2 separate regions of the Homo sapiens genome follow, and region 1 is linked to region 2. The links come from fine-mapping of genetic effects on plasma protein levels. A gene starts in region 2. The other region holds a variant in brackets. All regions are shown on one strand. Distances are between the middles of the regions.

Region 1 (2,880 bases), 98 kb after region 2:
GAGATCAGTGACAATGAGGACGACCTCCTGGAGTACCACCGGCGACAGCGCCAAGAGCGGCTCCGGGAGCAGGAGATGGAGAGGCTGGTGAGCGGGTGCCAGGGAGGCTTGCCACTGTCCATGGCAGAGTCTCTGCCAGGGCTCGAGCAGGCCAGCTGGCAGAGCAGGAGAGGCCCTCAAACAGGGCTTCGGCTTCTCAAGGTTCCCCACCTCCAGGATACACTTTAGTGATCAATATCTTATGGTTCTGGTGCCGTGAAGAAGAAATTCCTTTGAAATCTCTAAGACTTTATTTTAAATTCTTGCTAATTTTGCATTTATTCAACATAGCATTTGTTTTAATGTTAAATTAAATTTCACATTGTTTACCTGAGCACAGTGAAGCTCTAGGAAAACATACCACAGGTATGGTAAGACCTCGAACCTCCCAGTTTGAGAAGCAGTTGGTGATCATGAGTAGGCTGAAGCTCAGAGAGGGGAATGGCTTTGTCCAAGGTCACACAGCAAGTTCTGGCAGAGCTAGAATTGGAACCCAGGTCCCCTGTCTGACTCTTTCTGAGACTTGTTCTTTAGAAAAGTACCTTGTCCTTCTTTTTTGCTTGTCTTTGGCCTCTACAAGTGGGTGGGAGCTGCTCATCCTGGCCCAGGCAGTATCATCTAGGAGTGCAGGTGGCAGGGTAGAGGGACAGAGCAGGATAGGCAACCCTGGCCTGACCGTTAGCCAGCCTGTGTAATTGTGACTGTGTGTGTCCATGTGCATGCACGTGGGTGCATGCAGGGGCTGGGTGTGGCTCTAGGCAGCTGTCCTGGAGATGGCATCTGAGCTGGGTGGGGGCCAGGATTCCCCAGATAGCTCAGGGAGCTTAAGGGGCTCTGGCTGGTGTGTACACAGTCGAGCCCATGTACAGAAGAATGGATTCTGCCCTCTGTCCCTTACGAGCAGAACAGGGTTCTTTGGAAGGTGGGCAGGAACCCTGGGATTGGTTTGAGGAAGAGAACCAGAACTGATGAGAACCAGAACTGAAGCATCTGGAGATGCTTTTGGAAGAGGTTGGGACAGTTTTGGATGAGGGTATAGGATTGTGTGTTTGTGTTGGATGGGGGTGAGATGAGGCGGATCCCATCTTTTCCTTTGCTGCATCTTCTCTTCACTGTTTTTGCATTGGTCTAGACGGGAATGCATGGCCATTCTAAGCTGGGGTCTCATCCTGGAGAGGGGGCAGTGAGCCTGGCACAGGCAGAGTGGCAGGCACAGCCTCCCCCAACTCCTCCATCAGTTTTCCCACCCCCATTCCCACACATAAGCACACATCTTACCACTAGTCCTGACCTGCCTCACCTGCCACTTTAAGTCTTGGAGGCTGCCCGCCCTGCCCCTCCCACCTCAACCAGGCTGCTTATCTGGGTCCTGGGGCAGGGGTGGAGGCACTGGCCCAGCCTCCCAGGTGCCGAGGCTCTGTTCCGGTTTTTTTTTTTTTTTTTTGCCATGGAACTGGGCAAGCAACAGGAGGGAAGCTGGGTAAGTGTATGAGAACACCTCTCCAGCCTTCTCTCCACTTCCTGCGGTTTGGGTTCATGGCCAAACTGTAAGTGATGAGAGACACTTGAGGAGGTCTAGGGACCCTAGAGAGCCATGGAAGCCTCACAAACCAGGCTTCAGGCCTATAGGTAGGCCTGCGGGAAAAGGCAACAAAGACCAGGAATGTGATTGTGTCATCCCTCCTTTACCTCCTAGGCCCCTGAGAGGTGACTGTATCTGGGTGGGTGTGTATGTGGAGAGGGGTGGATGAAGTGGTAGGGCCATGGGAGTACTCACTCATGGGCCTGGGCATTCAAGGACTGGCAGCAGCCCATCCTGCTGATAAACAGCCAAGGGCTGCCTGAGGGTAACTTGGAGCTGAGGTGGGGACAAAGAGGGCCGTGTCCTTGGTCTACCTCTTCTCCATGTATGTCTGTGGTTGGGTGTCTGGTCCCTGTGGGCTCATGGGTCTGTTTTCCAGCACTGTCTGTCTGCATACATGCCCACCTGTCTGTATGCTAGACTGTGTTTATCTGTGAGTGTGCATCAGTGTGCATTTGTGCATGTCAGGGCTGGTGTCTCTGTACTTGCCTATTAATGCAGGGCCAGGGCACATGTTGTATCCTTGTGTGCCTGTGCATCAGTGCTGGTGTGTCAGTATGTGTCCTTGTGTCTGTAGATCTGTGTGTACCTGCGTCAGGACGAGCAACTGAGTTTATCTGTGTCTCATTGTGGTCTGTAGTCTGCTTAACAGTGTGTTTCTGTATGTGTTTAGTGTGTTACTGTGGGTCCATTTGGTGTGTTCCTGTGTGTCCTGGGGTAGACTGAAAAAAGAAAGGAACAGGAAGATGGAAGGGGCTGTCCCAGAAGTGGGCAGGAAGAACCAGGCTGTTATGCCATGTGGGCATGTGGCACAACAGCCT[C/T]GTTCTTCCTGCCCACTTCTGGGGCACCTTGTTTCCCTCTGCCTCCCCTAGGTCTTGGGGTCAGGCCTCTCCTGACTTGACACTGATGTCCTAGCCCCCTGTAACCCTGCTCTCCCTCCTGACAGGATACTGAACCTGGCTCTATCCCCACCAGGGCTCAGCTTCCTCCCCTTCATGTCCTGCTCTGTCCATCCTCCCCAGGAACGCCAGCGCCTGGAGACCATCCTGAACCTGTGTGCCGAATACAGCCGGGCTGATGGGGGACCTGAGGCTGGGGAGCTTCCCAGCATTGGGGAGGCCACCGCAGCATTGGCACTGGCAGGCCGGAGGCCCTCACGAGGCCTTGCAGGGGCCTCTGGGCGGAGCAGCGAGGAGCCTGGCGTTGCCACCCAACGCCTATGGGAGAGTATGGAGCGCTCAGATGAGGAAAATCTCAAG
Region 2 (5,398 bases):
GATTAAGGAACAGTTAATGAGAGCCTACTATGTGGCAGTAGGCTGGTGCTGAGGACACTGAGATAAAAGGTATATGGATCACCAACATTTATATAGCAGTCACTATGTACCAGGCATTAATCACTTTACATACAAACTAGTAAATCAATCCTCACAACAACCCTAAAAAGTATGTACTATTGTTATCCCCAGTTTATAGATGAAGAAACTGAAGCATGAAGAGGCTAAGTAACTTGCCCACTATCATACAGTCAGGCAGCAGCAGAGCTGGGATGTCAACCAGGTGGTAGGGCTCGAGTGTGTGCTCTTAATCCCCACATGATACTGCTCCTCGAAAAGCTCCCAGTCCAGGAGGCAGGGCAGACACATAATTCTGAGACCAGCAAAACAAGTTCGAGAGGGGTCAGCGTGGGACCTGTTCCTGAAGGGCGAGTTTTGAAGGATGAGTGGGAGTTAGTTGGTGGGTGGAGAAGGTACAGTCTGTAGAGGTCCAAAACTCCTGCTGCATTCAGGTTATTCTAATTAAGTGAAGACAATGGGACCATGCTGGGGACCAAAGATGAGGCTAATGTGAAGGTATAAACCACGGAAACCTAGTACTACTTGACTGTTAGGAGCAGTGGTGACACAGGTGCTCCCAGAACCAGCAATGCCAGGCTAGGGAGTTTTGAGTCCACTCCAGGAACAATGGGAACCTCCCAGGAGCCCCTTATCCAGGCTTATCTGCCCCAGATCACTGGAGACAGCCTGCAGACCAAAACCCCAGAGAGATGCAGTGGTGATTCCAACTGGAGATTCCTCCAGACCAGCTCCTCCGAGGGAAACCAAGGAGTACTGCATTCTGAGCGCTTCTCCGGAGGCTCAGGCTCTTTGGGGGACTAGAGAACATGAGTGAATTGAAGCAGAGCCCGAAAGAAGCCAGCCTGGTGGACTTTAAGAAGGTGGCTGGCTGCCTGAAGTTCTGAGTTCAGAGTTCTGAGGCCCAACCCAAGTATTTTATGAGAATAATAACAATAAAAATGGTGCAGGCCAGCTCTGGCTCCAGGACCAAGGAAATTAGATACATGGAGATAACCAAAGAATGATGAAAGGCAATCAGTCCAGGATACAGGGGAGAGAGAAGGTGTTCTAAAGAAAGCAATGGAAAAGAGAAAACGGCCCTCAAAAGGAAAACAATGAGAAACTGTCTTGATTGTACTTGTAAGAAATGATTGTGCGGTTAATATTATTTTTTGAACCCTGACATTCAGAGTCAGTCACCTGGCACATAGTGGATGCTTAATAACAGGTGTGGAATAAATTGGCTGCTACTTGCCCGGGCAGTGGGCCAGACTCATAAACATAGTGGCCATTCAGAATCCTGCAACGTTCATGTTTTCGTGTATTAGCGGTGGAAAATAATAGGAACAAGGCGAGACCTGGACTTCAGTCCCAGCTCTGCCACTAAGTGGCTTGGCTGTAGAGCTTAACTCTTCCACAGTCTTCATCTGTGTAATGGGAATAACGATCCGTACCTCTAGCAGGTGCGAGGCGGGTTGTAAATGGCCACGCCCGGGAGCCGCAAGAACCACGGTGATCCGCGCGGCCGCAGGTGGGCTGGGGCTCGGGCAAGGCCGCCCTGGCCTCCGCTGACCCCCGCCCCGCCCGTCTCGTCGGTCCCGCAGGCGCCCTGGAGGATCTGGAACGCGCGGTGGAGCTGAGCGGCGGCCGGGGCCGCGCCGCCCGCCAGAGCTTTGTGCAGCGCGGACTCCTGGCGCGGCTGCAGGGCCGAGACGACGACGCCCGCAGGGACTTCGAGAGGGCGGCACGGCTGGGCAGCCCCTTCGCGCGGCGCCAGCTGGTGCTGCTCAACCCCTACGCCGCGCTGTGCAACCGCATGCTGGCCGACATGATGGGGCAGCTGCGCCGCCCCCGTGACAGCCGCTGAGCGCCGCGGACCCGGGCGTCCGCGGGCGAGGGGACGGGACTGGGCCCTGAACCAATAAAGCCGTCGGGCCTCACCGACTCCGCCTGCTCCTGCGTCCTGCCCGCGCCCGGAGAGAAGGGCACTCGGGGGTACTCGGCGCGGGCTGGGGACCAGCCGGGGGGTGGTGAGCCGCGGCCGCCCACCTGCCGGGTAAGGGCCCCTCGGGCCCGTGGTCGGGCATCGATTGGCCCCGCCTGGCGCAGCCCCCGCCCCTGCAGCGGACTGCGGTGCTCATCAGACCTGAGCAGTTGCTCCGGCGGCGCTCGGGGAGGGAGCCAGGTGAGCCGCCCCGGTGGCGGGGGGCGGGGGCGGGATGCTCGGCGACCCCACCCTCCGACCCTCTCCTCTTCCGCCGACATCCACCGGAGCCACCAACATCAGGAAAGGGGGCGTAGGGCGAGGGATGGGAGAGAGAACAGGGCAGGAGAGAGGATGGGAACAGGGCAGGAGAGAGAATAGGATTAGGAGAAAGGCGATCCCTTTGGGGGAGGGGCGCGTGGAGTATGTGTGTGAGTGTGCGTGTGTGCAAGGTGTGGTTGCACGGATGCTCGTTGCTTCTGCGTATCTGCGGGTGTGTGCCTCTTTGTATTGTAGCCTGGAGTCAGTGCTCGCTTCTGCGCCTGCAGGATGTCCATGTGTCTGCTGGGTGGGTCTGTGCCTTTGGGCTTTGCCGTTCGTGTCCGTGCCTTCGCCACTGGGGGCTGGTCTACATTTGCGTTTCCGTACATGGTTCTTTTTGTTTCTGGAGAGTAAATTCCTGGAGCAATTGCTAGGCCTGCCTGCTGTCACCTGGCTGACAGGCCCGCCCCCTTCTCTCAGCAGCCTAGGGCCTAGGCCCGGGCCACCATGGCGCTGCCTCCAGGCCCAGCCGCCCTCCGGCACACACTGCTGCTCCTGCCAGCCCTTCTGAGCTCAGGTACACCCCTGTTCAGTCGTTGACCAAGTCCTTCTGGGTTCCAAAGCCCCCTCTCTCCCCTGTCTGCACTTCTGTTTGGGTACCCACTCCAGGCCCCAAGCCCTGGAGTCCCTGTCCCCTTCACCCACCTACCCTAGGTCCAACCAGCCAGTCCCTGGTGAGAGGACTCAGGTGCCCTTTCCTTTGGCCTGCTGCTCTTCTCACTGGGCCAATTCCTGGTCACAGCACAGTACCAACCGTGCCTGAGCCCTTCCCAGAGGCCTCCTGCTGTGTTCCAGGTTGGGGGGAGTTGGAGCCACAAATAGATGGTCAGACCTGGGCTGAGCGGGCACTTCGGGAGAATGAACGCCACGCCTTCACCTGCCGGGTGGCAGGGGGGCCTGGCACCCCCAGATTGGCCTGGTATCTGGATGGACAGCTGCAGGAGGCCAGCACCTCAAGACTGCTGAGCGTGGGAGGGGAGGCCTTCTCTGGAGGCACCAGCACCTTCACTGTCACTGCCCATCGGGCCCAGCATGAGCTCAACTGCTCTCTGCAGGACCCCAGAAGTGGCCGATCAGCCAACGCCTCTGTCATCCTTAATGTGCAATGTGAGTGGCCCTGAGGTGGGCAGGGAGATAGGTTCTTTGCCCAGGGACCCCCAGCACCCACCAGGCAGGTGGTCCGCAGGACATTTAGCAGACACTTAAGCACTTTGCAAATATGAACTCATTTGATCCTCTGAGTAACCCCATGAGGTCATTACTATTGTCGTCACCATTTTACAAATAAGAAAACTGAGGCAGAAAGAGGTAAGCAATCTGCCCAGGGTGATGATCCCGCTGGTAAGAAGCAGAGCCAGGATTCACATCTGGGCATTTGGCTCTAGTATTTACACTCATAATCACTCCGAAATGCTGCCTCTCTGGCAGACCCAGCCATCCTGTTCCTCAGCATCCCCTCTGAGGAGAGGCCCAGGCCCCTGGCTCCCATCTGGGTTTGGGAAGAAAGGGCTAGAAGTATGAGGGGCTGTGGTGAGAGCATATTGGCCTCTGCTTTGTACCAGTCAAGCCAGAGATTGCCCAAGTCGGCGCCAAGTACCAGGAAGCTCAGGGCCCAGGCCTCCTGGTTGTCCTGTTTGCCCTGGTGCGTGCCAACCCGCCGGCCAATGTCACCTGGATCGACCAGGATGGGCCAGTGACTGTCAACACCTCTGACTTCCTGGTGCTGGATGCGCAGAACTACCCCTGGCTCACCAACCACACGGTGCAGCTGCAGCTCCGCAGCCTGGCACACAACCTCTCGGTGGTGGCCACCAATGACGTGGGTGTCACCAGTGCGTCGCTTCCAGCCCCAGGTGAGCATGGCCAGCAAGCGGCCCTGCAAAGCTTCAGGTGGGCTCAGGGGTCCCGTCCCCATACAGAAATGGGAATACTTGTTGCCCTGTGGTTGGGTCTTGTGGATGAACTGTCCCCAGCCACCCTGGGCAAGGAGGGCAGAGTAGTACCTATGGCATGTTGGGGCTGGGGCACTACCCACTTGGGACCTGACACAGAGGACATCCTCCAGGGCTTCTGGCTACCCGGGTGGAAGTGCCACTGCTGGGCATTGTTGTGGCTGCTGGGCTTGCACTGGGCACCCTCGTGGGGTTCAGCACCTTGGTGGCCTGCCTGGTCTGCAGAAAAGAGAAGAAAACCAAAGGTAGGCCAGGGACACTGGGGGCAGTGTGGATGAGGTCAGGCTGAGCAGCAGCCAAGACAGCAAGTGCAGCTGGGCAGAACCAGTCATCTCTGACGGTGGCAGAGCACTTCCAGGGGGTGGCCATGGGTACGGTGACATGCATCCCAGGTAGCAGGGTCAAGCACTGGGAACCCAGTCTCTGGCCCCAGGGCCAGGCCTGGGCATTTGAGAGACCCCTTGCCTGAGGGTCCTGGGTCTGAAAGGGTAGGACAGCCCAGCGTGGGAGGGCACACTGAGAATTAGGGACATGGTTTCTTTCTCCACAGGCCCCTCCCGGCACCCATCTCTGATATCAAGGTAACTCTTCCTTGGGCTGGGTGGACAAGCCTAACCGAAATGCAGGATGGGGACAGGAGGGAGCCTGGGGTTTCTGGTAGAGGCAGCCATGAGTGCCTGTGCCGGGACTCATATCCATCCCGAACTTTGTCCTCCCTGTAGTGACTCCAACAACCTAAAACTCAACAACGTGCGCCTGCCACGGGAGAACATGTCCCTCCCGTCCAACCTTCAGCTCAATGACCTCACTCCAGATTCCAGAGGTATATCTAGGGCCCTGCTCTTTGCCCCTGCTTAATCTCCAGAAGTGCTTCTGAGAAAAAGAACTTGGTGCTTGGGAGGGGCGAGGCCTCATCAGGCACACTCCTCGTCCTGAACACTGCCCTCTTTGTCAACCAGCAGTGAAACCAGCAGACCGGCAGATGGCTCAGAACAACAGCCGGCCAGAGCTTCTGGACCCGGAGCCCGGCGGCCTCCTCACCAGCCAAGGTACTGGGGAAGGGGCCTGCCACCCTCCTCCT

Direction of the effects. Alleles are on the strand shown, and positions count from the first base shown. The strength of an association depends on the size of the effect and on how common the allele is.
As copies of C replace T in region 1, the plasma level of the protein whose gene starts at base 2,203 in region 2 goes up (strong association).

The links. PIP is the posterior inclusion probability: the model's chance that the variant is causal. Protein levels are from antibody-based Olink assays in UK Biobank. Linkage for the fine-mapping came from a reference panel and not from the study's own genotypes, which makes the PIPs less certain.
Region 1: its variant is fine-mapped to the plasma level of the TMEM25 protein (UK Biobank, PIP above 0.99).

What each region holds. Positions count from the first base shown.
Region 1 is chr11:118,628,564-118,631,443 of GRCh38, forward strand. It overlaps PHLDB1 (pleckstrin homology like domain family B member 1), which reads left to right. Exons shown (of 23, transcript NM_001144758.3): 6 at 1-87; 7 at 2,644-2,880. Among named protein-coding and RNA genes, the nearest start is that of MIR6716, 14 kb to the right of the region's middle. RefSeq lists enhancers at 2,264-2,772, 2,773-2,880. The variant C/T (reference allele first, on the strand shown) is at 2,443.
Region 2 is chr11:118,528,990-118,534,387 of GRCh38, forward strand. It overlaps TMEM25 (transmembrane protein 25), which reads left to right and starts at 2,203. Exons shown (of 9, transcript NM_032780.4): 1 at 2,203-2,245; 2 at 2,786-2,882; 3 at 3,161-3,472; 4 at 3,928-4,218; 5 at 4,431-4,562; 6 at 4,868-4,898; 7 at 5,040-5,140; 8 at 5,277-5,366. The coding sequence starts at 2,813. It overlaps TTC36 (tetratricopeptide repeat domain 36), which reads left to right. Exons shown (of 3, transcript NM_001080441.4): 3 at 1,665-2,004. The coding sequence ends at 1,927. It overlaps TTC36-AS1 (TTC36 and KMT2A antisense RNA 1), which reads right to left and starts at 1,786. Exons shown (of 3, transcript NR_120574.1): 1 at 1,515-1,786. RefSeq lists silencers at 665-959, 1,481-1,760, 1,881-2,320, 2,351-2,450.